Homo sapiens: one gene and its partners. The protein of the gene in region 5 interacts with the protein of the main gene of each other region in a biochemical or structural test. Each region holds a gene or a part of one and is shown on either strand. Other genes may lie near its edges. The genes, in order: RRBP1, ITK, ARHGEF7, FKBP4, MPDZ, NRXN3 and SLC26A3.

What was found.
Region 1: the proteins of MPDZ (region 5) and RRBP1 interact in a test that uses a peptide from one of them, tested with the Homo sapiens proteins (one large-scale study listed by IntAct).
Region 2: the proteins of MPDZ (region 5) and ITK interact in a test that uses a peptide from one of them, tested with the Homo sapiens proteins (one large-scale study listed by IntAct).
Region 3: the proteins of MPDZ (region 5) and ARHGEF7 interact in a test that uses a peptide from one of them, tested with the Homo sapiens proteins (one large-scale study listed by IntAct).
Region 4: the proteins of MPDZ (region 5) and FKBP4 interact in a test that uses a peptide from one of them, tested with the Homo sapiens proteins (one large-scale study listed by IntAct).
Region 6: the proteins of MPDZ (region 5) and NRXN3 interact in a test that uses a peptide from one of them, tested with the Homo sapiens proteins (one large-scale study listed by IntAct).
Region 7: the proteins of MPDZ (region 5) and SLC26A3 interact in a test that uses a peptide from one of them, tested with the Homo sapiens proteins (one large-scale study listed by IntAct).

Annotation. Positions count from the first base shown.
Region 1 is NC_000020.11:17,619,463-17,623,629, forward strand, and holds part of RRBP1 (ribosome-binding protein 1), read right to left. Parts: intron 2,486-4,167; coding exon 2,393-2,485; intron 2,312-2,392; coding exon 2,228-2,311; intron 2,086-2,227; coding exon 1,996-2,085; intron 1,346-1,995; coding exon 1,253-1,345; intron 909-1,252; coding exon 837-908; intron 267-836; coding exon 171-266; intron 1-170. UniProt on the Homo sapiens protein: Acts as a ribosome receptor and mediates interaction between the ribosome and the endoplasmic reticulum membrane.
Region 2 is NC_000005.10:157,242,821-157,246,987, reverse strand, and holds part of ITK (tyrosine-protein kinase ITK/TSK), read right to left. Parts: intron 3,366-4,167; coding exon 3,194-3,365; intron 2,727-3,193; coding exon 2,510-2,726; intron 1,263-2,509; coding exon 1,198-1,262; intron 1,108-1,197; coding exon 989-1,107; intron 1-988. UniProt on the Homo sapiens protein: Tyrosine kinase that plays an essential role in regulation of the adaptive immune response. Regulates the development, function and differentiation of conventional T-cells and nonconventional NKT-cells.
Region 3 is NC_000013.11:111,121,518-111,125,684, reverse strand, and holds part of ARHGEF7 (rho guanine nucleotide exchange factor 7), read right to left. Parts: intron 1-4,167. UniProt on the Homo sapiens protein: Acts as a RAC1 guanine nucleotide exchange factor (GEF) and can induce membrane ruffling. Functions in cell migration, attachment and cell spreading. Promotes targeting of RAC1 to focal adhesions. May function as a positive regulator of apoptosis.
Region 4 is NC_000012.12:2,800,803-2,804,969, forward strand, and holds part of FKBP4 (peptidyl-prolyl cis-trans isomerase FKBP4), read left to right. Parts: intron 1-314; coding exon 315-554; intron 555-2,348; coding exon 2,349-2,456; 3' UTR 2,457-4,167. UniProt on the Homo sapiens protein: Immunophilin protein with PPIase and co-chaperone activities. Component of steroid receptors heterocomplexes through interaction with heat-shock protein 90 (HSP90).
Region 5 is NC_000009.12:13,223,900-13,228,066, forward strand, and holds part of MPDZ (multiple PDZ domain protein), read right to left. Parts: intron 685-4,167; coding exon 475-684; intron 1-474. UniProt on the Homo sapiens protein: Member of the NMDAR signaling complex that may play a role in control of AMPAR potentiation and synaptic plasticity in excitatory synapses. Promotes clustering of HT2RC at the cell surface.
Region 6 is NC_000014.9:79,859,954-79,864,120, forward strand, and holds part of NRXN3 (neurexin 3), read left to right. Parts: intron 1-1,085; coding exon of another isoform or gene 1,086-1,388; coding exon 1,389-2,011; 3' UTR 2,012-4,167. UniProt on the Homo sapiens protein: Neuronal cell surface protein that may be involved in cell recognition and cell adhesion. May mediate intracellular signaling. Functions as part of a trans-synaptic complex by binding to cerebellins and postsynaptic GRID1.
Region 7 is NC_000007.14:107,799,995-107,804,851, reverse strand, and holds the start of SLC26A3 (chloride anion exchanger), read left to right. Parts: upstream 1-1,628; 5' UTR 1,629-1,741; intron 1,742-4,857. UniProt on the Homo sapiens protein: Mediates chloride-bicarbonate exchange with a chloride bicarbonate stoichiometry of 2:1 in the intestinal epithelia. Plays a role in the chloride and bicarbonate homeostasis during sperm epididymal maturation and capacitation.

The DNA of each region.
Region 1 (4,167 bases), on a different chromosome or scaffold from region 5:
AGGCCTGACAGCCCAACGAGGGGCCTGTGAGGCTTCGGGCAAACGCCTGAGGACTCGGACTTCAAGGCTTATGTCACCGAGAGCTGCTCCCACAGGGCTGAGGAGAAGCAGCTCAGGGAGGACCGCAGATCTGCTGGGCAGGGGCTGCACTCCTTGGGGGGCAGACTCACCCCTGCCACCTCCTTGGCGTAGTTCTGGCACTCGGCGCTGGCGGCCGCCATGTGCTTTTCCAGCTCTGCCTCCAAATGCGACGTGTGCTCCCTCACCTGGACAGATGCACAGACACGCACACGCATGCGCCAGCAGCCTCTGCTCAAAGGGCACTCACCTCAGGGAGCAGGCTGGCCCTGGGATAGGTGAGGCCTCTCGGGAGATCCCTGAGGCCCACCAGCTACCAAGCAAACGAGAAACTAGTCCGCGGCAAGAGAACCCCTTACGGAAAGTGGCAGGCTGCACCCGGGCACTCCTGGGGACTGACATGCTCTTAGATTTACTTGCAAAAGCAGGTACCAAGGGTACCTTCTCCAGGGCTCCCTGTGGCGTCTGAAGGGGGCAGTGGGGCCACCTTGACTGTGAAGGCCGTGGCAGAAGCCCTGTTCACCAGGGCTGGGCAGGTCTGCACAGGGCCCGTGGCTGGGTCTCAGGGTCCTCTGAGGTAGTCAATGTCTCTCATTAAGGAAAAACAGGATGGACAAGATCCCTTGGCTTGAGAGAGAATGCCTCTCTTAAGGCACACGGTCCATGAGGAAGAAATCAGTGAAGTGTCCTCTGCATTAACGTCACTTTCAAAGAGGCTCCCGGGACAAGAGAAAGAGTTCTCTGAGCAGAGCACATACCTGGTCCGAACTTTCAAGTTCTCCTTTTAGCTTCTCTACAATCTCTTCGAGATGCTTCACTGTGACCCGGGACTACAAAGCAAGGGGAAGGCTCCGTCAGACACGAGCACCTGGGGGTGTCTCCTTCCGAGGCCATGCTAGGACCCGAGCGGGACTGACCCAACTTAGGAAGCCCCGGGGGTGCCCACTCCGCCCAGCTGGGACGGTCACCCTGGCGCCATCTGGCAGTGTCTTCCTAGGCGGGGGCCTCCTGGAGGACGGACTGAGCTGTCATCCCGCAACTGTGCTTCATAGGGTGTCGTGGAAAAGCCCCACCGAGACACACGAGTCTCACAGGTGACAGAGACAATCCTGTCAACTCTCCCCTGGGCTTCATGTGCTCCACGGCGCCGGGAGGCAGGCAGGGCTGCATATACCTTCTGGAGCTCCTCCTCTGCGGCGCCCACCTTGGCCCTCCACACCTGCTCCTCCTCCTCCACGCTCTTCTGCAGGTCTCTGAGCATGCCCTCCTGGGGGGAAACCGAGGTGAGGCAGGGCCCTCTCCCTCCCGAGACCCGCACCACACAACCGCATCTTCCTGTCCCTGCAGCCCTGGTGACCTGCCGTGCTCCGCCTGCTGACTTCATGAGCGCCAGCGTTAGGTGGGGAGGGAAGGCAACCACTGTCCTGGGAGGGAGGTCCTCTGGCCAGTGGGCCAGTGTGGCTGCAGTGCCAGGCAAGGAAATGAGGTCTGTGACCTGCACAGGACCACTAGGATGCTTGTTACTGCCGGGGTTTGCCACCAGCACCAAGTGTGTCAATGGCCCAGGACGAGGAGCACAGGATGGGCTGGCCAGAGAGTGGCAGGGCTAGACCTGGCATTGCTCTTAGTCACAAACGGGGTTCAACCTGGCAGTCACCAGCTGCTTACCCCGTCCTTCCCCTTCCCCAGCTTAGAGACCGGCCCCGAACCTTCAACTTGGCCTTCTCTTCAGCTTAGAAACAATGACGACCTCAGAGGGTGCCATCCATTTACCATGCAGCCGAAGAACGGGGCCCAGAGTCACAAGGCCAGTGGGCTTTTCCAAAACACCAGGCCACCTCCTGCCCCATAGGCCCCGAAGCTCTCCTTCCCTGCAGCCTCCCAGGGATGCCCAGCTGACAGGTTCCCAATGCTCACCGTCTCCGCCAGGATGCTGCGGTACTGGTCACACTCGGCCTGCAGTGTGCTCTGCGTCTCCTCGGCCTCCCTCAACTTGGAGGCCAGGTCCTGAGAGAGGGAAGAACAGGTGTTTAGTTAGCCACACACAAAGGTTCTTCTCTTGGCTTCCCGTTGAAATGACTTGGGGCAGCCCCTCTTCCTGGGGACAGGGGAGCCCAACAGAGGAGCCTTGCCAGGCAGCCACACTTACCGAGGAGGGCTCCGCGGGAGCTGGCGGGTGCTTCAGCAGCGTGGGGCCTTTCTCTTTGAGATCCTGCAGCCACTCGGTGTAATTCTGCAATGAAACACATTCGGTGAGACCCGGGGACATTCCCTGAGAACTGTGAGGTCCCCGGGAACCACCCTCCCCTCCTACCTGTTGTGCCAAGACAGAGAGTTCTGGGAGCAGAGCCAGCAGGGCCTCCATGGTCTGCGCCTCAATCAGACAGAGCTGCTTCTCCGATTCCTCCTGGGGGGTGGGTGGGGAAGAGCGGAAGGTGTTCAGCTGTGGAGGTGTGGGGCACCTCCCCAGGTCTTTACTGATATGCCCGGGTCTCTGCCCCAGAAAGGGCACATCCTCAGCTCTTCAGGGAAGCGACAAGAATCAAAGGAGAAGATGAGGCTCCATGGGGCTGACTGTAAGCAGAGGGGTTACCCAGCCTGTATCTGGTCCATTTCAAACAGACTAAGCTCTGATGAAAGGAGCATACTGGGTCAGGCCAAGATGGCAGGTGCCAGCTCCCGGGACATCTCCCAGCAGGGACAGTCTCCACCAGCTCTCACTTCCCGAGCTCTCTGGGCATGTGTGCATGTGTGGGGGAATTTGGGGGGTCCGCAGTTGATGTGTGAGAGCCAGGGCAGGAAGAAGGGATGGGAGGACACTCATGGCCCCCAATGTTTTGGAATCTAGAGCTGTGATGGGGATGGGGGTGAAGGCAGGGAAGCAGTGCGTCTGCTGGCGGCACCACGGTTAGGGGCTAGTGGCAGCCAGGAAGGGGCAACCCAGAGAGGCTCATCTCCAGCCACCCTGGAGAGGGTGGATCAGCATTCCCCCTCTGCAGAGGGAGAAGCCCACTCAGAGGAGACAGGGACTTTGCACCCTGTGCCATGCTGGGTCGGACACCCCCTCAGTCCTCAACGAAGAGCCAGCGGCCCCCATTCAAAGCACAACAAAGATAAGGAAACAAAAGGAAACAAAGGGGGCCCAAGGGAATCATGAAGCAAAGCCTAGGACCACAGTGTCCCCCGGGAGAGAGCTGGGCTCTCCCACACCCCGAGGGGAAGGCTGCTGGGGTAACAGCCTGTGTCTGGCCCTGCCACCACCTGGACAGGCCTGGCCTAAGACCCAGGGAGGCCCCAGGAACTCCACCTGGATCAGAGCTGATGGAGTGTTAACTCCCCCAAGCAGAGTCCTGGAATGTGCATGAAGGATGCTGACCACCGGACACCCAGCCTGAGCGCAGCGCCCTCTGGCCTGACGCACACCTGAGAAGCGGGCCCTTCCTGGCTGGCCAAGTTATCCACAGGTAGGGCCCGTGACCCATGTGGACCCTTGACCTCACGACCACCACTGAGGCCTCTAGTTGTGAGTCAAGGCAAGCTGGAGACCCAGAGGCCACCTTCTATCTGGATGTGTGACCACAATCAAGTCAGGTGACATCTCTGGTCACAGCTTCATTTACCACATGGTAGCCAGACAGTCTCTGAGGTCACTGGGGGCTACAAGGCCAAGATTCTAGGAGTCTAACTATAGCTCTCACAGGGTGGCCTGAGGCCATCCTTCACCTCCTGCCCTAGCTAGTTGTCCTCATCTGATACAACCCTCAGGCTTCCTGGGAATCACCGCAAAGCTCCTGCCATTGGGGCAGATATTCCTGTGAGAGAGGCTGGGAGTGGAGGCCCTTTCATGAGGTAGGAAAACGTGTGTGACCTCAAAGTGTGGGCAGGGCCTTTAGTTGCAGCTGCTGCTGGCCATGTCCCCTGGCCAGAGCCTCCTCACTGGCTCCTGGACAGCCCAGCACCCCAAAAGCAACCCGTGGGCTCAGACACTGGGAGACACCTGCACACGCCCCACCTGGACAGCATGGAGCGCAGGGCCAACGCGGCCTCTGTTCCCCGAGTGCTCGCTGCAAACAATGTCCTCCCCTCTGT
Region 2 (4,167 bases), on a different chromosome or scaffold from region 5:
TGCACAAACTATGACTTCAGGTGACATGGCAAATCCAGCAAGAACATTTGGCACATCCTGCAATACCAACATCATTCATCCCTTCATGGCCATTTGCACTTTTTAGAAATTCTAATTCCTTATGATGGCCTACCAGCTTCATTGCCTGTTGTTCTCCCAATAAGTCAGTACCCCTTGTTCTTTGGATGCACCAAGTTTTTGCACTTGCTGGTCCCTCTGTCAGGGACACTGTTCCCTGGCTCTTCAAATGGTGACAGCTCCCTCCTATCATTCAAGTCTCTGCTGAAGAATTACCTTCTGAGAAAGGCCTTCCCACACCACACTATTCAAAGCAGACCCTCTCTCTATCCTAGTCACTCTGCCCCATTACTGTTTTATTTTATTCATAGCACCTACTTATGATTGCCTGGCTTTATCTTCTATCCCTTAGCTTGTTTATTATTATTATTGTTTATGACTGTTATTATGATCTTTTGTGATTTTCTGTCTCCCCTCCCATCTCAAATTTAGTTCCAAAAGAACAGAAGTCTTTTCTGTTCTATGAACCACTGCATCCTCAGCACCTAGATTAGCCCTTGGCATAGAATAGATGATCAGTTAATTGTTGTTGAATGAATGAATAAATATTAATACTTATTGAGAGATAAGTATGGAAATGTAGTGTTGGACAAAACATGGTCCCTGCCTTCAAGGGGCTCATATTTGAATCTCCTGACTTCTCCAGCTTTTGACTTCACAGCAGCTGGCACCAGAACTCTTGTTTCCACTTTTAATTAACTCCCACCACCATGTCCAGTATCTCTAAAAACAAACAAAATGATGAAGGCCCTTTCATAGTTTTCGGGGCCTTTCTTACACAACCCTCCAGTGGGACACCCTCATGATATGATACAGGGTTCAGTGTGGGTAGGGTTGTCTGCATTTGATAAAGGAAACAGCTGGCCTGAAGCCCAGATCATGGGGCAGTGGGGCCCAGCATGACACTCACCAAATGACCACACATCGGACTTGCTGCTATAGCGACTGAAAGAGAAAACCTCTGGGGATGCCCACTTCACCGGGAATTTGGTGCCTGTGGAACTGGTGTACTGATCATCCAGAACGAACCTGGGAAGAGAGTGGAGGGAGAAGGTCAGAATGTTCCGGGGGCCTCAGTCCCATTCCTGAGACTTCACCGGCACCACATCCCTCTTTTACCTTGTCATCCCAAAGTCAGACACCTTGATGACTTGGTTTTCTCCCACCAAACAATTTCTGGCAGCCTGGAGAGGAGACAGGCAAACAAAGGCGGAGAGGAAAACTGTTGATGAGTCATCAGTAGTTAAGGAGTCTCCTATAATCACAGTCCTTTGCTTTACTGCAGTGCTGTCATACAAGGGCATCATGGAGCTTTACAAATGTTAATTAAGCCTCACAAATGCCGCTGGAAGTTAACTGGAAAGTTGAATGTGTAAGATCCACTATCAAGATGAGTAAGTTTATCTTCATTCTTGAGTTCTAATTAGAAATCCTTGGTGTTGTCTAACCAAAGATAGGCTCTAATGCAACCTGATGTGATAGGAAATGTTAACATCAGGGATAACAGGAAGAAAGCATCTCCCAGTTGACTAAATTAAGAATGTTTTGATGTTGTTAATCCTCTTAAAACTGTTCTTCAATAGGGAGAGTACCTGACCCCTAATTAGTATTATAGACTGTTGCATTGAAAAAGCCATTGGAGATAACACTCCAGTGTGTCTCAATTTTTTTTTTTTTTTTTTTTTTAGATGGAGTCTTACTGTGTCACCCAGGCTGGAGTGTAGTGGCTTGATCTCAGCTCACTGCAACCTCTGCCTCCTGGGTTCAAGTGATTCTCCTGCCTCAGCCTCCCAAGTAGCTAGGGTTACAGGTGCCCGCCAGTAAGCTCAGCTAATTTTTTGAATTTTCAGTAGAGATGGGGTTTCACCATGTTGGCCAGGGTGGTCTCGAACTCCTGACCTCGTGATTCGCCCACCTCGGCCTCCCAAAGTGCTGGGAGTACAGGCATGAGCCACCGCACCCAGCTGCATATCTCAAATTTTAATGTGCATACAAATCATACGGGGAATGTGTTAAAATGAATATTCCTGAGTCCCAGCCACCAGAGATTCTGAGAGTAGCTTAAGGGCTTCCCCAGTGTGATTCTGGTAGACCCTTGAATAATACCTTCAGACAAACTCAGTTTCCTCAATTTACCAGGAGGAAATTGAGTCACAGAGAGGTTAAGAAGGAGTGGCAGTTATCTCCATTTTGGAAGAATATAAACTGAAATGCAGGAGGTGAAAGAGTTTGGGCTGGGATCAGAGCCCAGAAGTAAGTCCTCATGAAGCCCTTTCCACTAGGACCACCCAAAGTAGGTGAAGGAAGGGAGAAGTTGAGAAAGGAAAGGAGATTATCTGTAATGTATTATTTATTAATGCGTTCCCAGTCATTTCAGTGAGAACTGTCCCTTTACCCTGGACCTGTGGGTGTTCACCCTGCATGCTCATACCAAGTCTCTGTGGATGACACATGCCTCTTCCAGGTAGGCCATGCCCTCACACACATCCAGACACATGCCCAGCAGGGTCTCTGCAGCAAAAAGTCCCCGCTGGGTGCGTAGATAATCTGACAGGCAGCCGTGCTCCATGAACTCAAACACCAGGCAGATGGGGGCCTGCTCCAGGCACACCCCATACAGCTGCACCAGTTTGGGATGAGAGAGTTTCCTGGAGGAAAAAGACAAGGGGTGAGATGGCCTAAACTCAGTCTCCCAAAAATGCCGAAAATATTATGGTACCAAAATAGCCAATGGTCATTTTGTCTAATTTATGGTTTGGATGAAAATAATATTCATTCCCTCCCCAAAACAAAAACATGTCATTGGAGCTGAGACCTGAAAAATGGCAAGGAGTCAGCTGTGTGTGTGAAGATGAGCAGAGGCCAGTGTGGCTGGCATGTCATGGACTGGAGGAGAGATGGGTAGGAGCTGAGAAGGGGGAGGTGGGCATGATCAGATTATGGTGGGCCTTGGAGACCACTGTGAAGAGTTTGATTGTATTCTCTGTGCAATAGGAAGCCACTGCTGGGAGTTTGCGCAGGGAGATAGTACCCCCTGGCGTTTGAATGGCATTTCAAGAACACTGAACCGATGTTCCCCCCAGAGTTTCTGCATATCCTTGTTCTGAGCACTCACATCATTACTTCAGCCTCCTCTATGAAGTCCTCTTCTGACATAGCCCCTTCCCGAATGGTTTTGATAGCCACCTTGTCCTTGTTGAGCCAGTAGCCCAGATGCACCAACCCAAATTGCCCACTGCCAATCTCTTGCACAAAAGTGAGCTCTGAGGGGTCGATCACCCATTTCCCTGGAAGAGAGAGAGAGAGTTCTCTGGGGTCAGCAAGCAGTAGATATAAGGTATTGGGATACCAGGGGACTATAAAGCCCTAACTAGAATTTTAGCCTATTGTTAATATAATTCAAAGATGGCAAATAAATTATCTTTTTCCCACATAATAACATAGGATATGCTAGAAAACTATGAAAATATGTGTGGGAAGGTAACATGGAAAGAAGGAGAGTGGCATTAATGAAGATATTAAAGAAACCATATTAATCAAAATATTAAAGAAAGGGTTCTTGCAATGTCCCATTTTTCTATGTCATTTTTCACACTAAGTAAATTTCATTGAGCTGATCATTCTTTCATTCATTCATCTATTAAGAGCACCTGCTATATACACATAACCCTATTAGGCCTTACTGGGGCAGAGGGGCAGTTAAAGAGAAAGATTTAAAGAGAATTTGTGCAGAGGCACAAGCTAGCACAGTGTCTGGCACATGGGAGGCTCTCAAGAAATGTTTAACAAACAAATACGAGATTCCGAGGCTCAATTTCCTCACCAACAAAATGAGTAGGCTGACCAGGTAATATCTGAAATCCCATCCAGCACGGACACATCAAGATTCTACATTTATTAGAATACCCTTATTTTCATAAGGAGGCTAAAGAGGCACTCTTTCCCCAGTGCTTGGTCTGGTACCTAAACAGCCAGATTTCCACTGCTTTGAGGCAGAGACTCAACAGCAGGCAGTATTGAGCACCTACTGTGTGCCGGACACGGTGCTGGTTAGGGATAAAGAAGCCCATGCGTGGCAGTGGTTCTCAA
Region 3 (4,167 bases), on a different chromosome or scaffold from region 5:
AGACACTCAGAATTGAGGGAGAAAAGCCATCACTGGCCATAATATTTACAAATAATCAAAACCAGGCCACTTTAAAGGCGTTGCTAATAGATCACACTGTCAGAACAAGGCTTCATGGCGAGAGAACACGCAAATCCAAACACACTTGGAGCTGTGGATGCCCATTTTAGACAAAGGCAATTTAATATAAACTGGACGAGGCTTACGTTTCTTTTATATACACTTTTTGGGATTCTGAATTATATATAGCTTCTATAGAGAAAAGATAGGATGATCACCAGCCCCTAAAAAAAAAAAAAGCTGCTCCAAGTGTAATAATAAAGTTATGCACAAAATACCAAGCAACAAGAAAAAAAAGAACATTTCAAATAACCAGCTTCCAGTTTTGTTTTCTCTAGTAATTTTAAAGTACTCAGAAGAAGAGATATGAAACCCAGGGCATAGGACATGGATATTCATTCATATATTCTCACTCTCTCTCTTTTTCTCATCATGGAAAGATTCCAGGTCCAAAGCAGTACAGTAAAATTATTTCAGCCTCACTTCTCTTGAAAAAAAATCCCTCCAAAACAGCCAGGAGAACAAGAAACACAAGCATCATCTTCAATAAAACTAGAAGACACCTGGTTGGGCGCACTGGCTCACACCTGTAATCCCAGCACTTTGGGAGGCCGAGGTAGGCAGATCACGTGAGGTTAGGAGTTTGAGACCAGCCTGGCCAACATGGTGAAACCCTGTCTCTACTAAAAATACAAAAATTAGCCGGGCATGGTGGCGCACACCTGTAGCCTCAGCTACTCGAGAGGCGGGGGCAAGAGAATCACTTGAACCCGGGAGGCGGCCGTTGGAGTGAGCCGAGATCGTGCCATTGGACTCCAGCTTGGGTGACAGAGTGAGATTCTGTCTAAAAAACAAAACAAAACAAAAAAAACTAGAAGACACCTATCCCCAGGCCACCATTATGAAGGCAGGGAGCAGACGGAGGATGGGTGGGGCTTCAGCAGAGACTAGAAGGTCCCATCCCAGTAGCCAGTGGCAAGTGCACCCTCCCAGGTGGTAGACAAGCCACCTGTCTGAGAGTCAGATGCAGGCCTAGGGGCCCCAGCCCCATCACAGCTGGCCACCCCTCTTGCCATCCTTGCAGGGGTCCGAGGCTTATTCTCTGGGGAAAAGTGAACCAAAGAGGCCAGAACATGGAGAGGGCCAGCATGGACAGGAGCCAAGGTGAGGATGGACACTGCTCTGATAGGCAGCAGATGGAGGAGTCTCTGGAGAGACTCACGGCTGCTGGAGAAGAGACCAACAGGTTCAGACTTCTGGGCATCACCAGGCTGCCCCATGGCGAGACCTGCATGTCCCTGGGCCCCAGCAGTCACACAGGACTTCCTGGTCATTTTGAGGGCCTCACACTTGAAAGATCACATGATGTTTCAGTAAATCTCCAACATGGAAAAAAAGAATTGCATAAGAGGACTCAGAGGAAACAGAGACAGTGAATGCAGGGAAGGAAGCACCCTTCAAGGAAACTGTAATGAATGTTCACAGGAAGAGAGGAATCTTCCCAGAAACAGGAAGGGACTGACTGAAAGGGAAGAAACAGAGAGAAACCAGATAACGAGAAAAAAGAACTTTTAGAAATTAAAAAAAAAATAGCCAAAGTAGGTCAAAATAAAAAATGTTAGTAGAAAAGTTGGGAGATAAAGTCAAGGAAATGTCTTTCAGAAGGAGAAGAAACATACAAGTGGAAAGGTCAGCAAATGAGAGACTCAACCCAGCAGGCCTGGCAGCCGCAGGGGCAGGGGGCGGGGCCGGGGGGGGGGGGCGCAGCCCACCAGCCAACGATGGCCAGTTACCAGCCGCTCTGGAGCTCCGTTTCCTAATCTGAAAATGGGGGCGATCCTGTCACCACCTCCCTTATAGGGTGGTGAGGAGGGTTAAATCCATTATTATGGGCAAAGTCCTTAGAACAGTGCCTGGCATACAGTATGCACTCAATAGATATTATCTCTGATTAGTCTTAATAAGATTTCTAAAAAATGAGAATAGAGAAAATACTAGAGAGGAAATTATCAAGGAAATAAAGGATATAGAGGGTATTTTAAACAAAGGTACAAGCACTCTTGTGATTGGGATGGACTGTATTTACATATATCGGCATGTCCCCTAGTTAAGAATGGCACGGGCATGTATGTGTGTGTGTGTGATTTGTTATCTATGGCCATGGTAAACCTCAGTGGCTGGCTTGAGTCAGCCTGGTCCGGGCCTGCTGGTGCAGCTGTGCCTGCTCTGGGCAGGGCAGGCAGCTTGCTGACCCTGGCTGGGCTCTCTTCAATGTTTGAGGTTGGCTGGCTGTGGATAGGTCCAGGATGGCCTAGCAGGGACAACTGAGTTCTCCTCCATGTGATCACACCCCACCAGCACCCAAGCCCTGGGGTCTCCTCGGAGGTAGACACAGGGCCTGAGAGAGTGCAGAAAAGTGCAAGCCTTTCCAAGGCCTGGGCTAGGAACTAACACTGGCCACTTCTGCCACAGTCCATTGGCCAAAACAAGTCACAGCTCAGATTCAAGAAGTGAGGAAGCAGACTCCTACCTCTTGATGGAGGCGCTACAAGGTCACTTTGCCAGGGGCATGGGAGGGTTGGAGAATTGGGGCCACTTCTATCGTCTACCCCAACCCTTCTCCACTCTGCTTTGTGTCCTGGGAGGCTGACCTCTATACACAGTATCCCAGGGCCGCCTCCCAGCACAGGCCTTGGAGCCATTTGCTTAGACTACAGTGTGAACGGTTCTCCCAAGACCGGGCAGTACACAGCTTACACAACCACATGCAGGTGCCCTCAGTGAAGCCATCTGCAAAAGGAGGCGTCTGGGCTGGATGACTCTACATTCCTTCATCCTGAGAACTCACAAATACTTTATACCCAAGATCCTAGCATTTCTCTTCTGACCTGCCTGAAGAGGTGGTATGGCTGGCATCCATGCGTGCGCTTCCATGCGTGTGATTGGGTCACTAGCACGCACACAATAGGAACCTGGTAAAAGGGATGATTAAATGAATTCACATACATGTGTTTGAAATACACTGTGCACACATTCCATTTCAGTTCCCCTCACCGCCTCGCCTTGAGACCCCAGCAGACATGACACCATCCTGCAAAAACAGAGTTGAGAACTGCCAGCCTGGTGCATCAAACCTTAAAAATTCAAAGCTAAAGTTAGAAATATAAAAACATCAAGAGATTAATTCTCCTACCCTAACTTGACAGAACTGATAAAGGAGGGAGAAGTCAGAAGCTGTACCCGGGAAGCAGTCGGACCGGGGCGGCCCCAAAGCCCTCTCTCTGCAGACACCAGGTGGGGCAGGCTGGCCCTCACTTCCCATCTCTGACTCCCGGCCCTGCTGATGCATGAAACTTTATATAAGCGAAACCTGAGTCCACCCGCTCAGCCCTCCCGCTCCCCAACCAGCAGCTGTGTGCACTCAGCAGCTGCGCCCAGATCTGGCGCTGACCAGAGGGCCCTGGAAGCCACGTTCAGCAGGCCCACCAACCCAGACAATGGTGGTCTGTCCAGAGTGGGATGCAGAGGCTGCCAGCCCCCGAAAGTTGCAAGAGTCTGCCCTGTTGTGAGAATTAACCCGTGTTCCTGGATTTGGATGGCTCTGAGGTTCAAATCTTGGCTTACAGTCTTCTGGACACGATGGGGAAGGTTTTCAGTGTCAATCAACAAAACAGTAACTACTGCGTACTGAGGAATGACTTTGTGCCCAGCACATCTACTCATTTACCCTGGTAATGACCTCACTGCCCCCACCAGTGGATATCATTCATCTCATTTTTAGGAGGAAGAAACTAGGACTCCGAGAGGTTAGACAGGTGCCGGAAGTCACAGAGCAAATGGCTGCGGGAACAAAGCCAGGTGTGCCTGACTCTGAAGCACGCAGAGGACCGGGTCTCCCAGTGTCTCCAGGCAGGGACCCGTGGGTTCGGGGGATGCCAGTCCTCCCATCTCCCAGCGATGCACGTGGTAGAGTTGCGTGCCCAAAGGGATGATGTGCCTCTGCCACCTCCCTCGTGCAGTGAGAGACGCGTGGGCGTCAAGCCTACACAAGACTCCAATCCAAACGGCTAAAATCCACCCTACACAAGAACAAACGGCTCTGCCCCC
Region 4 (4,167 bases), on a different chromosome or scaffold from region 5:
ATCACATAAAGAGTTTTCTTCCACCTTGGTTCTTAGCCTCTCCGCTTACCTACTTGCTTTATTCTAAAGTGAATGTTAATGTCTGAAGTCTTTATTTCATCCAAAGACCTGCTGTCTTCCCTCTCTGCCTGTTGGATTAAATGAGGTCCCTGGATTGTTCCATTTAATGCCTCAGGCCTTGTTCTTCCTGGGGTGCAGCCAGCCACTTGCATTCCTCCTCATCCTCCTGAGGGGTACCTTTGGAACCCAGTCTAGGCCAGATGAGCTACAAGCCCTGAGCTCCCACAATGTGGCTTCCTCTCTGCATTCTTTAGGCCCTAGAACTGGACAGCAACAACGAGAAGGGCCTCTTCCGCCGGGGAGAGGCCCACCTGGCCGTGAATGACTTTGAACTGGCACGGGCTGATTTCCAGAAGGTCCTGCAGCTCTACCCCAACAACAAAGCCGCCAAGACCCAGCTGGCTGTGTGCCAGCAGCGGATCCGAAGGCAGCTTGCCCGGGAGAAGAAGCTCTATGCCAATATGTTTGAGAGGCTGGCTGAGGAGGAGAACAAGGTGAGGATTGGGGTGGGGAACAGTTGGAATAGCATCCCTCCACTTAACCTGGCTACTGTGGGCTCTTTGTGCCTTTGGTTGTCTGTGCCAATCCCGGAAACCAGAAGTTGCCTTTTCCCTGGAGCATTAAGGAGCACGTGTTCCTGCTGTTGGGGCCAGTGTTCTGTGATCAGTGCGGGAAACCTACCCACAAGCCCCAGAAGTTGGGTTGGTTGCCCTGAGTGTAATTCCCGATTTATGTTTTCTTGTGGGCCAGGCGCCGTGGCTCACACCTGCAATCCCAGCACTTTGCAGAGCCAAAGTGGGAGGATCACTTGAACCCAGTAGGTAGAGACCTCAGTGACTTAGGATGGCACCACTGCACCCCAGCCTGAGTGACAAAATGAAACCCCATCTCAAAAAAAGAAAAGCGAGATGCTTTTTGTGTGTGATTAAATAAATAATACACTTAGTTAAATTCAAACTGTACCAAAGTATACAGTCAAGTCTGCCTCCCCCACCAGAAGCAGCTGCCCCTTCAGGGTCTTGGATGGTCCAGTGTATTGCGTCAAGGCACAGGCAGACGTTCCTGTTGCTTCCTCCCTTTCCCCTAACACAGGCAACGTGCTCCACCTATGATTTGGCGCATACTATGCTTTTTTCACGTAATAGTAGCTGGAGGCTTATTTTACATCCGTATTTAAAGAACTTTTACATTCTTTCTTAGGCTTACATTGTATTCCATTGTATGGATATGGCTTGTCTTAGTCAATCAGTCCCTTTTTAGTCTTCCAGTGGTTTTATTTTTTTTCTTTTTCTGAGACAGAGTTTCGTTCTTGTTGCCCAGGCTGGAGTGCAATGGCATGATCTTGGCTCACTGCAAACTCCACCTCCTGGGTTCAAGCGATTCTCCTGCCTCGGCCTCCCGAGTAGCTGGGATTACAGGCGCCCGCCACCACACCCGGCTAATTTTTGTATTTTTAGTACAGACGAAGTTTCATCATGTTGACCAGGCTCTCGAACTCCTGACTTTAGTGATCTGCCCACCCCTGCCTCCCAAAGTGGTGGGATTACAGGTGTGAGCCACCACACCCAGCCAGTCTTAAACAGTGTTCTAAACCAGCACTGTCCAGTAGAAATACAGTATCAACCACATGTAATTCAAAATTTTCTGGTAACCATGTTAAAAAGGTGAAAAACAAATGGAATTAAATTTTAGTTGCATTTGTGTATTTTTCAAACCATCTTCAAAATCCAATGTATATTTTGCACTAAAAACACGAGTTTGAACTAGCCACTTACAGTAGTGGCTACCATACGGGACAGTGCTGCTTAGAACAGCATTGCAGTGAATAACCTCATGAGTTCATAATTTGTACATATACAAGTGTTCTGTTTTGTTTTGTTTGAGACAGTGTCTCTTGCCCTGCCGCCCAGGCTGGAGTGCAGTGGCACAGTCTCAGTTCACTGTAACCTCTGCCTCCAGGGCTCAAGTGATCCTCTTGTCTCAGCCTCCCGAGTAGCTGGGACTACAGGTGCATGCCACCACGCCCAGGTAATTTTTGTAATTTTTGTTGAGATGAGGTTTCACCATGTTGCCCAGGCTGATCTCAAACTTCTGGGCTCAAGCAATCTGACCACCTCAGCCTCCCAAAGTGCTGGGATTACAGGCATAAGCCACCAGGCTTGGCCTATACAGGTATAGCTTTAGGACAGATGTAGGAGAATGGGTGTATCTGTGTAATTCTGCTGGAAATTAAGTGTGTGTTTTTTCACTTGGGAAGTCAGCCCGTTTGCTGTTCATCTTCCTTGCAGGCCAAGGCAGAGGCTTCCTCAGGAGACCATCCCACTGACACAGAGATGAAGGAGGAGCAGAAGAGCAACACGGCAGGGAGCCAGTCTCAGGTGGAGACAGAAGCATAGCCCCTCTCCACCAGCCCTACTCCTGCGGCTGCCTGCCCCCCAGTCTCCCCACTCCACCCTGTTAGTTTTGTAAAAACTGAAGAATTTTGAGTGAATTAGACCTTTATTTTTCTATCTGGTTGGATGGTGGCTTTAGGGGAAGGGGGAAAGGTGTAGGCTGGGGGATTGAGGTGGGGAATCATTTTAGCTGGTGTCAGCCCCTCTTCCCTTCCTCCATTGCACATGAACATATGTCCATCCATATATATTCATCAGAATGTTAATTTATTTTGCTCCCTCTGTTAGGTCCATTTTCTAAGGGTAGAAGAGGCAAGTGGTAGGGATGAGGTCTGATAAGAACCCAGGGTGGAGAGGGAGACTCCTGGGCAGCCGTTTTCCTCATCCTTTCCCTCTCCCAGTCCATTTCCAAATGTGGCCTCCATGTGGGTGCTAGGGACATGGGAAAAACCACTGCTATGCCATTTCTTCTCTCTGTTCCCTTCCTCACCCCCGACGGTGTGGCTGATGATGTCTTCTGGTGTCATGGTGACCACCCCCTGTTCCCTGTTCTGGTATTTCCCCTGTCAGTTTCCCCTCTCGGCCAGGTTGTGTCCCAAAATCCCCTCAGCCTCTTCTCTGCACGTTGCTGAAGGTCCAGGCTTGCCTCAAGTTCCATGCTTGAGCAATAAAGTGGAAACAATAAAACCTGGGTGTCAGACAACCCTTTCTGTTCAGCCTTGGAGTGGTGGGTATGGGTGGGTACATAATGGGTAGTAGCACAATCAAGGGGTCACCCACTTAGTTCCAGTTGAGCTTAAATAAGTGAGCATCTCATGTAGATGCCATAGTTGGGCAGGAAGCAGCCCCACCATGCATGGCTTCCTGAGCACTGCACAGGCTGCCGCTGGGATTTGTGTCTATGGCTTCGCCCAAGGTTCCCAGCACTCCCTCCCTCCAGCAACCTGGCAGTTTTAGTGCCTCTGGTTTTCTTCCCTGACACTTAGGAAGACGAAAGTATAAAGATCTAGAAGACTGGGACACCATGCATGTTCATTTTGAAGTTGGAATTGGTCTTCTGCCTACCTCTGATCTGGCAGAGGTATCTGCATTTTGGTTTGTTAACAAGGTAAAACTCCTGGTGTCACTGACCTCCTCCTGTCAGATAACTTACATGATTAAGGTTAAGAGTAAAGCAGAGTGTTCACGTCCAGCTTCCTTCTCAGCCTTAACAGGAAAAGGCTTGTGCTTTTTTTCTAACTATGCTTTGACCCTTAACTCCTATGGCATGATGGGGCCCTGGGAGAAGCCAGGCAGCACAAGCCAGTCATGCTGAGCTGCCTCCAGATAATCCTGGCTCCAGGCCAGAGCCCGTGTCTGCCCTCATCCCTCTCTCCTACTGTGAGCTCTCCAGTCCTTTCCCAACAGCGATGTGGTTGTCTGCTTAGCCACATGCCTGTATAGTTCCTTCCAGAAGAAATGTATAATGGTGGAAGATGTATTTCTGTGTGAAAATTTTCACCAAGTCATACAACACAGCTGATGCTGGAGCCAGGATTAAAATTGGGGTGTACAAGTCTCCCAGTGTGAGTATCCCTTGAGCCCAAGACACCAAGGATGCAGAGAACTGTGACTGTGCCACTGCACGCCAGCCTGGGCAAGAGAGTGAGACCATCTCTTTTTTAAAAAAGTCCCTGTGTAACTGCTTTCTTACTGGGCTTACCTCACATCACAG
Region 5 (4,167 bases):
GGCACACATCTATAGTCCCAGATACTCAGGAGACTGAGGCAGGAGAATCCCTTGAGCCCAGGAATTTGGGACTGTAGTGAGCTATGATCACAACACTGCACTCCAGTGTGGGTGACAGAGCAAGGCATGTCTCAAAAAAAAACTTAAAAGCCAATTACTGCAGTAACAGTCATCTTATCAGAATCATTTCTTTGTTAAAAAAAAAAGAAATTGAATAACATTTTTCCAAGGTAATTGTTAGCACTTTATCCTGAAGAATATTTCTATAATACAACATATAATACTCAAATTTAAATGATGATAAAACTGTAATAGAAAACGTCTGAACCATCTAAACTCCCACAAAACTGACTTTTTGTTCCAATGTTTTCAGATGTTATAAATGTCACTATATTCTTCAAATTATCCATAACTTGATCACATTCTTAAATTACTACAGGTATTACAATAACTAACAGAAAGAAATGTTCTTACCTGGGCCATATTTTTGATAAGCTGATCAAATTCATCACAAGCAGGTTTCCCATTAATGTGTGGAATACCAGGTCCTGTAAGTGCTTCCAGATTCCCATTGTTTGGGGATAATAAAAACGATTCATTTTGCAGAGTAGGAATCACAGCTGGGCTGAGATGAGGAACGTGGGCATATTCAATATTTGAAGTTGCTGAAGTTGCAATATTTACCTAAGAGTAATGCAGGGATTATTAAGAATTTTGACATTCCATAAACTATTTCATAGAAAATATCCCAAGGGTACAAGGACATACAAATGAAATTTCAAAATGTCCAAATCCTTTAATCCAGCAATTCTATTTTGGGAAATTTATTTCAAGGATGAACATTAGGATAATACACAAAGATGTGTGTGCATCACTAAATGTTCAATGCAGCACCATTTATTAGATGGGAAAATTCAAAAACTACCGCCAGGGTTCAACTTCAGGGTACTCATTAAAACACACCCATAAATATATACATCCACACATATATTTTTCTGTCCCCAGATCCTATGAAGTAACCTCTAAACTCTCAGAATTTCCCCTCTCAGAATTTCCTGAGTGATGAGGTATCTTTCTTCTTCATGGTGGGCCCCAAGGCCACATGATATAAGCCCAAACTCGGAGCTGAATTTTAATCATATAGGCAGGGCAATCAATCACACCTATGAAATAACACGCCAATAAAAAATGCTGAACACCAAGATCAGGTAATCTTCCTGGGTTTGCAACACAGTCAAACACAGCTATACATGTGTTTGTGCTTTAAGCTAAGTGCTATTATGAGAGTCAAAAGTTTAAAAAAAAATTAAGACTTTATAAAGGAAAAAAAAGTTACAGTAAGCTAAGGTTAATTTATTATTGAAGGAAGTTTTTGTAAATTTACTATAGCCTAGGTGTACAGTATTTATAACTTATGTATAAACTCTATGCATAAGAGTTTTTTACCTGTCCTTAAAAATAAAACAGAAAACTCATTGTTACCAAAGTTACCAATAACTCAACCATTATATTGGCTATCTAGTAGCATACAGTATATTGACTATCTAGTAGTGTACAGTAATGTCGTAGGCCTTCACATGCACTCACCACTCACTCACTGATTCACCTATAGTAACTTCCAGTCCTGCAGGCTCCATTCATGGTACGTGTCTCCTATACAGGTGTACCATTTTTTACCTTTTAACCACATTTTTACTGTACCTTTTCTATATTTAGAAACACAGACAATTACCATTGTGCTACAACTGCATACAGTACTCCATATAGTAACATGCTGTACAGGTTGGTAGACTAGGAGCAATACCAAATAGCCTAGCTGTGTGGTAGGCTATATCACCAAGGTTTGGGTAAGTATACCCTACGATGTTTGCACAAGGATGAAATCACCTAATGACACATGGCTGTACTCTATACATATTGTCACACATCGATTCTGGGAGAGTTATACTTTCCCAGCAAAATGGAAGCTTCCAGTTTGGAATCCTCCCATAATCTGCACTACGCATCTCTTCCTTTGGCTGACTCTTGACTGCATCCTTTCCCTACCATAGATCATAACCATGAGTTTAACAGATTTCAGAGACTCTCTAAGACCTTCTAGTGAATTATGAAACCTCAAGGTGGCTAGGGGAACCTCGCAAATTTGCAGCTGACATCATAAGTGAGGGTGGTTTTGTGTATCCTTATACCTTTAACTTTGTAGCTGGACCCTAACTCGCCACAGTTGGTATCAGAAGTGTGGGGCAGCACTGGCAGTCTGGAGGACTGTGCCCTCAAATCGTGCTGTCTGGCTAACTCCAAGTACAATGACACACGTAACAACAACGGAAAAGATCATCCCACTTTGGGAAATGATTCTATAATTATTTGTGTGTGCCTTTTAAAAGAGTTTGAAGTTAAATCTAAATAATAATAAAGCAATGCAGTCAATCCTAATTTCATATTTATGTTGGGTGCCTGGATTGTGACTTTTTATCTGTAACTACTTATCAGAAAGCTTACTTCATTGATGTTTTTGAGTCACTCTCTGACCTCATCTCCTAGCAGTCTGTCCCTCACCCACTTAGCCCTAGCTGTGCTCCCCTCCTCACTGTGCCTCAAAGTGCCAAGCTGTTCACTCTACCAAACAGGTATATTCTTCCCCAAATATCCACATGCTTCCTTATTTCATTCAGGTGTGCCTAATCTCACCACAGAAAAGTCCTCCTTCGCATTCCTATCTAAGACAGCACCATTATACTCCACGAACTTACTGTGCCCTGTTTTAATTCATGGCACTCATTACCACCTGATCCACACCCTGCTGTCATGAAGCTTTCATCCCAGTCAGTGGAGACCGACTAGAATGCAAAAACTCTCCAGTGGAAATTTTTGACTATTTTATTTTTACTATGCCCTCGTTCTCTAGAAGAATGCCTTATACAGAGTTGTTCAACATACATTGGCAGAAAAAAAATGTTTATCTATTTTTTAAGGATCTAACTCTGATCCAATCTCCTGAACAACCTTTCAAGTATCATCTCAATGCTAAGGATGATGAAATTACGTAAAGTCACACAGCTAAGTTGTTTGTGACCTAGATTTTTTTTCATCACGGTGTTCCTATCATCCTTGTATTATACAGAAAACATACAGTCCTTGTATTATCCACAAAACATTTGAGATATCATTTAAAATAAAACATTAGGTAAAGAACATCCACTGACAGAAGCTATCAAAATATTTCACAATATGTCACCAAAATCTATACATAAGAGTTTGTTACCTATCCTTAAAAATAAAACAGAAAACTCATTAAGTTACCAAAGTTACCAATAACTTAACCATTATATTAGCTTTCTACAATCACAGATGAAAAAGAGATCAATGTGTTGAGAAGAGACTTTTGGGAATCCTTTTAAATGTTTATTTTAAAATCTATAGCAGGCATGATCAATTATTATTTTTTCAAAAGTAAGCTTCTTATGCCAAGATTGATTTTTTTTTTATCCTGAGCCATGGCAACTTCAATAAAGTTTGCCAGCAGAAGACACGCAGCTCAGGTTGAAGCAGATGGCATAATGAAATTTGTGACAGCCTGAGGATCCCACACACCAAGACCTAATGGCTATGGTATGTTTGCATAGGAAAAAATATTTGGACTTATGCTATGGTAAGCCAGAATGAACAAATCGCATCCCGAGAATAGAGAGTCTGTCTGTAAGAGATTCATGGTAAAAGAGAAGCTCTGATATTATGAAAGAGTAGGTATACAGGCATTCTAAGAGTAAAGTGAGTGAGAGCAGAACAAGTAAAATATTACAAAATGAGAACTGTATAAAAGTATTTAATATCAATTGTCATTTCCTAATTTGTTAAAGGTTTGAGGAAGGTCAATGACTCCTCCTGCTTCATCCCTGACCTTGAGGTCTACATAAATGTAAAAGCAGAGGTTATAGAGATCACATATTTAAAAACTATTATTTAATTATACCACCATACAAAAGTCTTATTTATAAATTGGCAAATTTATACTCATAAGAAAAAGCAGAAAGGCACCTTTGATTATGCTGTAATTGTTTATTAAAATGGCTTTCTGAACTATAATCTCTTTGAGGAATACGAGTGTATCTTATTTGCCTTGATAGGTCTGTTCATAGCAGTCATGCCACAAATGTTTAATGAAAA
Region 6 (4,167 bases), on a different chromosome or scaffold from region 5:
AACAACATTATAAAGACACTGAAGAGAGATCAGTTATCCTGCTGACATAGATGCATAGCAATCTTGGCCTTACAGTAGGGTAAGCAACCACTACTGCAGAATATTTGTGGTACCCATGATCTGCAAGGCCCTGTTATTTAATGAACTATTCTGAGCTTTCTTTCCCAACTTAGTCTGTATGATTCTAAGTGCAATAACGAGGGTCTATGGGTAAACAGATATGTTTTTGCCACACTAGTTAGCAATCACCAATTTAAAAAACTCACTTTGCTAAGTCAACATTTCTGAGTCTAACAGTTTCAAGTCATGGATATCTAGGCTGAGTATTTTGAAAATCTAGCTTCCAGCTCAGCATATATTGCATACAGCATGAAAGCAATGCATACAAATATTAGACTAATGCAAGGCAAGCTGTCATTTAATAGTCAGGGGGATTTCTGGAAAAGCATGGTCAAAATGGATTTGTTAGATGAATATTTTTAACTTTTTAAAAATCCCTATTGCTCAGCTTATAGTAAACAAGGACTGTGATTAATAAGTGTGAAATAAAAGGAAGTAACTTAAGAAAACACAAAAGACACAATCTTTTATGTTTCTTGATCTTGGTCTCAATAAGATGGTGAATCGGTCATTCTCATCCTCCTGGGAGCAAATGAGCAGAATCCCAAGAAGGCAATAAAGAAATCTTAAACGCATGTTAATAAATTCTTAAGTTAAGCACACAATGTGTGCGTGTACCCACACATGCCAATTTTGATAGCCAGCCAGTATTTATAACAGTATCATTGACTGAATGTCATCAGCCCATAAGCAGATCCTGGAAAGAACATATATAGTTGAATTTTATCTAAATAATTACTTGAGAGTATCTTTAAAAAATCTAAGCCCCTGATCTAGGGATTTCAGGTTTGGGTGGCAAGAGGCATACAGAAGGCTCCAAATCTGCCTAGAATGATTAGACTCCATCCAGAAAAGATCCAGATCTTTTTATTATAATTTCTGAGGCATAATCTGTGAATGACGTTGGTTGAGTGAGAGTTGTTTACAAATATACTAATTGTTTTTCTTTTTCTTTTCCATCCCAGGAGGTGAATTAGTTATCCCTCTTCTTGTAGAAGACCCTTTAGCTACCCCTCCTATTGCTACTCGTGCACCTTCCATTACACTCCCCCCTACCTTTCGCCCCCTCCTCACCATTATTGAGACCACCAAAGATTCCCTGTCCATGACCTCTGAGGCGGGGTTACCTTGCTTGTCGGACCAAGGCAGCGATGGTTGTGATGATGATGGCTTGGTGATATCTGGGTATGGCTCAGGGGAAACCTTTGACTCTAACCTGCCCCCTACTGATGATGAAGATTTTTACACCACCTTCTCCTTGGTAACAGATAAGAGTCTTTCCACTTCAATCTTCGAAGGTGGCTACAAAGCACATGCGCCCAAGTGGGAATCCAAGGACTTTAGACCTAACAAAGTCTCCGAAACTAGTAGGACTACTACCACATCTTTATCCCCTGAGCTGATCCGCTTCACAGCTTCCTCCTCGTCTGGGATGGTGCCCAAATTGCCAGCTGGCAAAATGAATAACCGTGATCTCAAACCCCAGCCTGATATAGTCTTGCTTCCGTTGCCCACTGCCTATGAGCTAGACAGCACCAAACTGAAGAGCCCACTAATTACTTCCCCCATGTTCCGTAATGTGCCCACAGCAAACCCCACGGAGCCGGGAATCAGACGGGTTCCGGGGGCCTCAGAGGTGATCCGGGAGTCGAGCAGCACAACAGGGATGGTCGTCGGCATTGTGGCTGCTGCCGCCCTCTGCATCTTGATCCTCCTGTACGCCATGTACAAGTACAGGAACAGGGACGAGGGGTCCTATCAAGTGGACGAGACGCGGAACTACATCAGCAACTCCGCCCAGAGCAACGGCACGCTCATGAAGGAGAAGCAGCAGAGCTCGAAGAGCGGCCACAAGAAACAGAAAAACAAGGACAGGGAGTATTACGTGTAAACATGCGAACACTGCTCACACGCGAGTTTTCACAGTTATTTCTATCCACGCCTATGAATCTTTGGACGGTGAGATCTCACAGATGTCAGAACTGCTGGAACTATGAAATGGGGTATATAACCACGACTCTGGTGGGGAAAACCGTTTTTTAAAGGACACACACACACACAGCGATGCATCTCTCTCTAAAGCTCAGCCACGGCTGCGGCAAGGTCCCAGCGGTCGCTGGGAGACAGAAGGTTTTGTGCCCTGCTGTATCATAAAGCACACACTTAGCGCTCTGGAGCCGGACGGTGGCTCCACCACTTCCGCAGGCCTGGAAACTTCCTTCTCCGGAGGACCTTTTACTAAAAGGTAGAAGACTTCATGGCTTACTTGTTCCATAACTCCAAGTGAGTCTGTAATGTTTGTGAAGCTTGACTGTAACCATGTTTTTTCTGTTTAATTATGTAAAAAACAAAACTACAACAACAAAAAAAGAAAAAAGTTAAAAAAGAAAAAAACACCAAAAAACAAAAACAAACAAAAAAAAAAACCCACAACCCTTATCTGGTTCTGACCAGTGTGCGTGTAACTTTATGATCTGAGGGGAAAAATGGCTTTTGGGTTTTTGTTTATTTTTTTGATAATGACTGGACATCAGAAGAGGAAAAAAACTCAAAACAAAAGCGAGAGAGACTATTGCCATATGAACTCAAAAGCTATCATGGTGTTCACTCTACATATCAGGTTATGGTGTCTCTAGAATCTGTTGTTTGTTTCCTATAAGATGCTTTGCTGAACACATAGCAAAATTCATGTGACGGATGATAAATTGATTCGAAAAGCTGGTCCCCCAGGATCTAATTTCAGAATTTACCACCCAAACCCGGAACAGATGGGTTTAGGGCTGGTGTTATCAGAGCTATTGGCTTTACGTAACAATATTGTTCCTGTCCATTCACCCAGCCAAATTGTGTTAAAGAGGAAAGCCCCACAAACTAAAACAGCCTTTCCTAGGGAAGAGGAAGGGGAGGTGGGCTGGATCTGTGACTGATTGAAATGCATGCAAATAAAAAAGACAATATTAAAGTCTGTTATCAAACCAGACAGTAGGGGAGTTCAACTCGTGATGGAACCACAAAAGGTCACACAAGCCAACCATGTCATGCCAGAGTACAAAACACATAGTTCTTTCCCCGCCCCGAATGTGACAATGGTTTTCATAGTGGTTTAATTTTGTAGCCTGACATTTATGGATAACTCTGTCCTTCCATTTGCTCACTTCTCTCTTCACCCATCTTTTTTAAAAACAAATAAATGAATAAAGCTGCTGTGACACACACACAAAAGGAATTTAATAGTATAATATATATATAAATAAATATATATACAGATATATTTATCATGGTATGTTTGATGGGATGACTGACACAGGAAATCTGTTAAAGTCTTAAAATGGAATGAGAATGTTGTTTTAAAAGAAAATAGCAAAACAACAAAAAAGCAAACCTTAAAATGTGAAGAAAGTGTGAATTTTAGTTTTGTCACAGTTAACTGTGTCAAAGAGAATTAAAAAAAAAAACTTCAGATTTTGTTTACATATTTTACTACATTTTTGCTGGTATAATTCCTTAGCCACCTATGTACATACTGCTTTAAGAAATGTTTTTTTCCTGTTTATTTCTGTTTGGTTTATATTCTGGTTGTCTTTTTCTTTTTGTAAAGAGGAAACAATGTACAGAAAAACAATAAACTGGTTGTATGGCCATAGCTATCCGAAAAGCAAGAGACAAAGCAAGACAAATATTCACACAAAAATGAAGTGTGTCCTCTGGAGGGTCAGATATACAATTTCTTTTGTACAGATGAAAATCAATCAGCTGCTTAGATTTAGAAATCTACTCTTGCTGGTCTTTGTAAGTTGCATGAATATTTGACTTTGAAAAAATATCTTAACGACATGGGGCAAAAAGTGCAATCTAAATGGTAGCCTTTACTAATGTGTGTGGAAAGAGGTGTTCCTCATTATCTAATATTTCAATGTGTTAAGAGTTTAATTTTTTTGTTATCATTAAAAAAGACAGGATTATAAAGAGATATCAAAGCACGATTTTAGATAACCTAAACGGCCCAGCCTATACGAAGTTGATTATATCTCGATGTCTGTAAAAGAT
Region 7 (4,857 bases), on a different chromosome or scaffold from region 5:
AGTGGTTCTCCTTGAGAAAGTGATGTTGAAGCTAAGTAACAGCCAAACCGAGAGAGAGAGAGAAGTGCATTTAAGCAGAGAAAATGATGTCTGCAAAGAGTGGGCAAATTTGGGACTACAGGAGGCCACCATGGTGGGAGTGGAGAAAACAAAAGTAAGAGCAGAGTCAGATGAGGTTGGAGAGTTGTGCAGGGGGAGATCATGCAAAGACTTTGGAGGCCTGTTTTCCCTCTGTGTAATCATCAGCCCCACAAAGAGGACTAGTGTGAAAAGATCATTCTGATTAATGAGTGGTAAAGAGATGGGGAGGGCTGCGAGAGGAAGCAAGAAGTGCAGCAAAGGTAAGAGTGAAGATGAAGAAAAGTGATGGCTTTGGGATGTATTTTGGAGGCATGCTCAATAGGGTTTAAGGATGGATTGGCTGCGGGTGGGGAGAAGGTCTGCAAGAAGAAGTGTCAGAGATGGTTCCCAGGTCTCTGACATGAGTAAAGGGGAATATTCTTTACTGAAATGGGGAAGACTAGAGATGGAGCAGATTTGGGAGGAAAGATCAAGAGGTCTTAATCTCGATATGTGTCGTGTTTGAGATGCCTATGAGGCATCCAAGCAAAGATGTGGAATAGGCAGTTAAATATGTGGACCTAGAGAGCTGGGGTTAGAAATCTGAATGTTGCTGGGAGCCATAGGACTCTTATTTAGGGTAAGAGGGTAGCAAGAGAGGAGAAGGAAATTCAGAACAGAATCTTAGGAAATGCCAAAGAAAGAGTTAGAGGAGAAATTGGCAAAAAGGATGAGGTGAAAAACAAGTGTGTTAAAAATTTTTTTTTAGCATTTCAAGAAGAGAAGATTTTAGCCCGGCATGATGGCTGAGGCCTCTAATCCCAGCTACTCAGGAGGTTAAAGCAGGAGGATCACTTCAGGCCAGGAGTTTGAGACCAGCCCGGGCAACACAGCAATACCCCATCTCTAAAATTAACTAATTAGTTAAATAATTTTTAAAATAAAAAGAGGAGTTCATGAAAGTGTAGTCAGCAATGCCAAATGCTTTTAAGTAAGATGAGAGTTGAAAGTATTCATTGTGTTTAGCAACATAGGGTTTATTGCTCTTAGGAAGAGCTGTGGTGGGGGCAGAAATTGGAATGCAGATATGGCCTGTGGCTGGGAGTTGGGTGAGTGTTCCTAATGAGGGCCTTTATCATACCAGGAGTTAACCTATACACCACACTTCTGCAGCCCATGACAGATTCCATGGAGTCATCCAGCCAAAAAACACCACCACTAAACTCTCATCTAAACAGGTTGGTGAAATGTCAAGGAGATAACCCTTGAGAAGATTCTTTTTTTTTTTAAGTACACGTGAGCATCTGCTGTGCAATCTCTGCAAACCAATGAAATTACGTACACACAAGTGCATTAAACCACCCACTGGTGGTTTAATCTCACAAGGAACTTGAGGAAGCAATCTTCATCATCACTTCTGCTGATCAAAGTCTCAAAGGTCAAGACCACATTGCAGTCTTTTCATTGTTGTAAAAGTTAATGAGAGTTAATTATTAAAGCTGACAGAAAGGTAATTTGTCCACTGTCTTACATAGCCTATATATAGACATCCCTATGCATATGGATGCACACAGAGCCTGTAGACCTGAGTGGATGGACACTGCCTCTTAGAACTAGAACTTAGAACTTTATCTTGAAAATGTACCACTGTTGCAGAAGCTCCTCACAGAGTATGTGTCAGGTAGGAACCAAATTTATGATTGTTATATTCAAACTGGTTTTCTGTTCCTTGAAAATGGTATTTTTTCTGATCAAAGCCTATTTAGGAGTTATTATGTTCTTGAGTTTATTCCATGTGTGTGAATATTTTGAATGAATCCACTAATAAGATATGCATGTATGTCTGGAGCGCTAGCAATGTAGAATAAATATTTAAGTAGACTTTAACAAGTAAATGGTTGTAGGCATCATTAAGTCTTAAATAGCCTTTTCAAAGATATTAGTGTTCTTGTTTTAATTATTCAGATAATTCCTTTAATTCTCCACTCAAATCTGACTTTATAGATAGATTGTCTGCTCTGAGGGTTGGCAAAAAAAAAAAAAAAAAAAGCAAGCTTTAAGGAAAGAGTTTCTCCAGGAGAGAGAATCACCTACTAGAAAGGATTCAGAAAGGCCATCTGGTCCCAGCCAGGCATAGGGATATGTATCTATAGTCCTAGCTACTCAAGAGGCTAAAGCAGGAGGATAGCTTAGCCCAAGAGTTTGAGGTCAGCCTAGGCAACATGGCAAGACCTTGTCTCTTAAAAAAAAAGGGAGGGGGTAGGGGACATATGGTCTAGAAGTGAGAGATTTATCTGCTAGACATCCTAGAAAGTCCAAGACTAAGGGAAACACGGAGAGAAGAAAAGGCAATGAGAGTAAGAAGGATAGAGACTGGAAAGAGAAGAGAGATGGGGAGAAAATGGTCACTGGAAAGTAGCAGAATGCCCTATGCCACAAGTAGTATAATATAATATAATACATTAGTAATGTATGGGTACTTATCCCATACATTACTAACTCTATCAAGATAAAATCTATTTTATTCTTTAAAATGTCAGGAAAAGATTATACAACTTTCTTTATATATGCAAGTGAGGAACAATTTATCAAATTATTGGACTAAATAATTCTCTTTTCTGAAGTAAGTTAGTCATTTGGAAAAACTGTGTCATGAAATTTGACTGCATAAAGATCATTCCTTTTTTTTTTTTTTTTTCTGAGACGGATTCTCACTCTGTCGCCCAGGCTGGAGTGCAGTGGCACAATCTCTGCTCACTGCAACCTCTGCCTCCCAGGTTCAAGTGATTATCCTGCCTCAGCCCCCCAAGTAGCTGATACTACAGGCACGCTCCACTGTGCCTGGCATTTTTTTTTTTTTTTTTTTGTATTTTCAGTAGAGACGGGGTTTCGCCATGTTGGCCAGGCTGGTCTCGAACTCCTGACCTCAGGTGATCCTCCCACCTCAGTCTCCCAAAGTGCTAGGATTACAGGCATGTGCCACCCCATCCGGCCAAGGATTATTCCTAATGAAAATTTAGGAAGCAACTAATTTGATTTCAGAAACAAGAAAAATGGGGTAACACAATACATACTTTGCCTTCTCCCTCTGGATAAGGGAATAAGTAAGTATATAAAGAAATGAACAAATGTTTAATACCTCCTAAACAGCTCATATTCGACTAAGAAACAAAATCGTTCAGAAAATGAGAATGAATATTTTTCAATTACAAGAATAAATATGTAATAACACAGTCTGGTGCTTCTCTACAATAAAGGTCTTTGATTCTCCAAAGAGAAGAGAAGAGGCTCCTCTAGCCTCTGTGTCACTTTGTTGAGAAGCAAGGGGAAGAATAAAGCAAGTCACCTCAAGGAGATTTGTCCCCAGGCCACCAGGCTCATGTTTTGTGTTGTGGATATTGAGTGTAGGAGTGTGAGGCTTTCATGCTCAAAAGCAAGGACCCTGATGGTGCCTCACCTTGTTCTTTTACCTTGTCTCTCTTGGGGGTAGGGGCTGAGACCCCTGACATTGAATATGTAGCAGAGAAGAAGACGTAGTGGAGAGAGTCAGTTATTCACTAGATGTGGCTTCTCATCCTGGCTCTGGGAAGTTGAGAAAGTCATTTATCTTCTCTCATCTCCATTTCTTCATCTGTAAATTAGCGACAATACAGCCTATCTTGTCTGCCTCCATCCACAGTAATACTCAAGGAAGAAAAGTGAAAGTGCTCAGAAAATCTCAAAGCCTTACAGAAATGGCCAGGGATTCTCTTTTGCCTGCTGTGAGCCTACTGGGTGTGAAATCCCTTGCTATGGTGCATCCCAACATTTCTCTAATGGTTTAGCCTATGGGCCAACAAAGCCTTCTGTTTCAGTGTTTGGAACTCTCAATAACCTTTCACATGATTTGCTTATTGCCCACTGCTTTGTCATCACCCCTGCCAAACCTATCTGTTCTTTAAAGTCTAACACAAGACTCACAGTTCCTTCACAAAACCTTCCTAACTCCAACCCACATTTACATCCCTTCTTCCAATTTATTATCTGCACCAATTATTTTGGGCACTTCTCCTGTGTATGTAAACTTTGGAGTTTAGGTCTACGTCATTTATATATCTTTTGCTCATAGTTCAGTTTATTTCAACAAACTTTCTTGTATACTTACTATGTCATAGGACCTAACAAAAGAGGGAAAAATGGTTAAGATTTGGGCCTTGCCCTTGGGAAACTCAGTCTTAAAGGGAACAGAAACATAAACAAATAATGTATGACATGGAATAGACATATATACAAGGTACTTACAAGAAGGAAATGATCAACTCTATCTAGGGATTCCATGAAGGCTTTACATCATTTTCTTATCTTCTACAACTGTGTTAGGAACTGAGTTCCTGACAAATAATAGGCTGATACATGTTTGTTGAAGGAATGAAGAAATGAATCAATGGTCAGCTGAGTTGTGTTTTGTTTGTTTGTTTGTTTTAGAGACAGGGTTTCTTTATATTGGCCAGGCTGGTCTTGAACTCCTGGCCTCAAGCAATCTCCCCACTTCAGTCTCCCAACGTGCCAAAATTACAGGCATGAGCCACTGCACCCAGCTGTGCTGAGTATTTTTAAGAATGAATTGGAATCTACCAGGTATTGGAGAAGAAGAACACAAAGGAAATCATGTGTACAGAGATACGGAACTGTTAAATATCATAGCGTGTTAGGAACCTGCTGCAATTGTGAAGGAGGAGTGAAGAAGCTTGTGAGATAGACCAGAGCCAAAACATGAAGGACCTTGTATGTCATTCTAGGAAGCTCGGATAGCTAGAT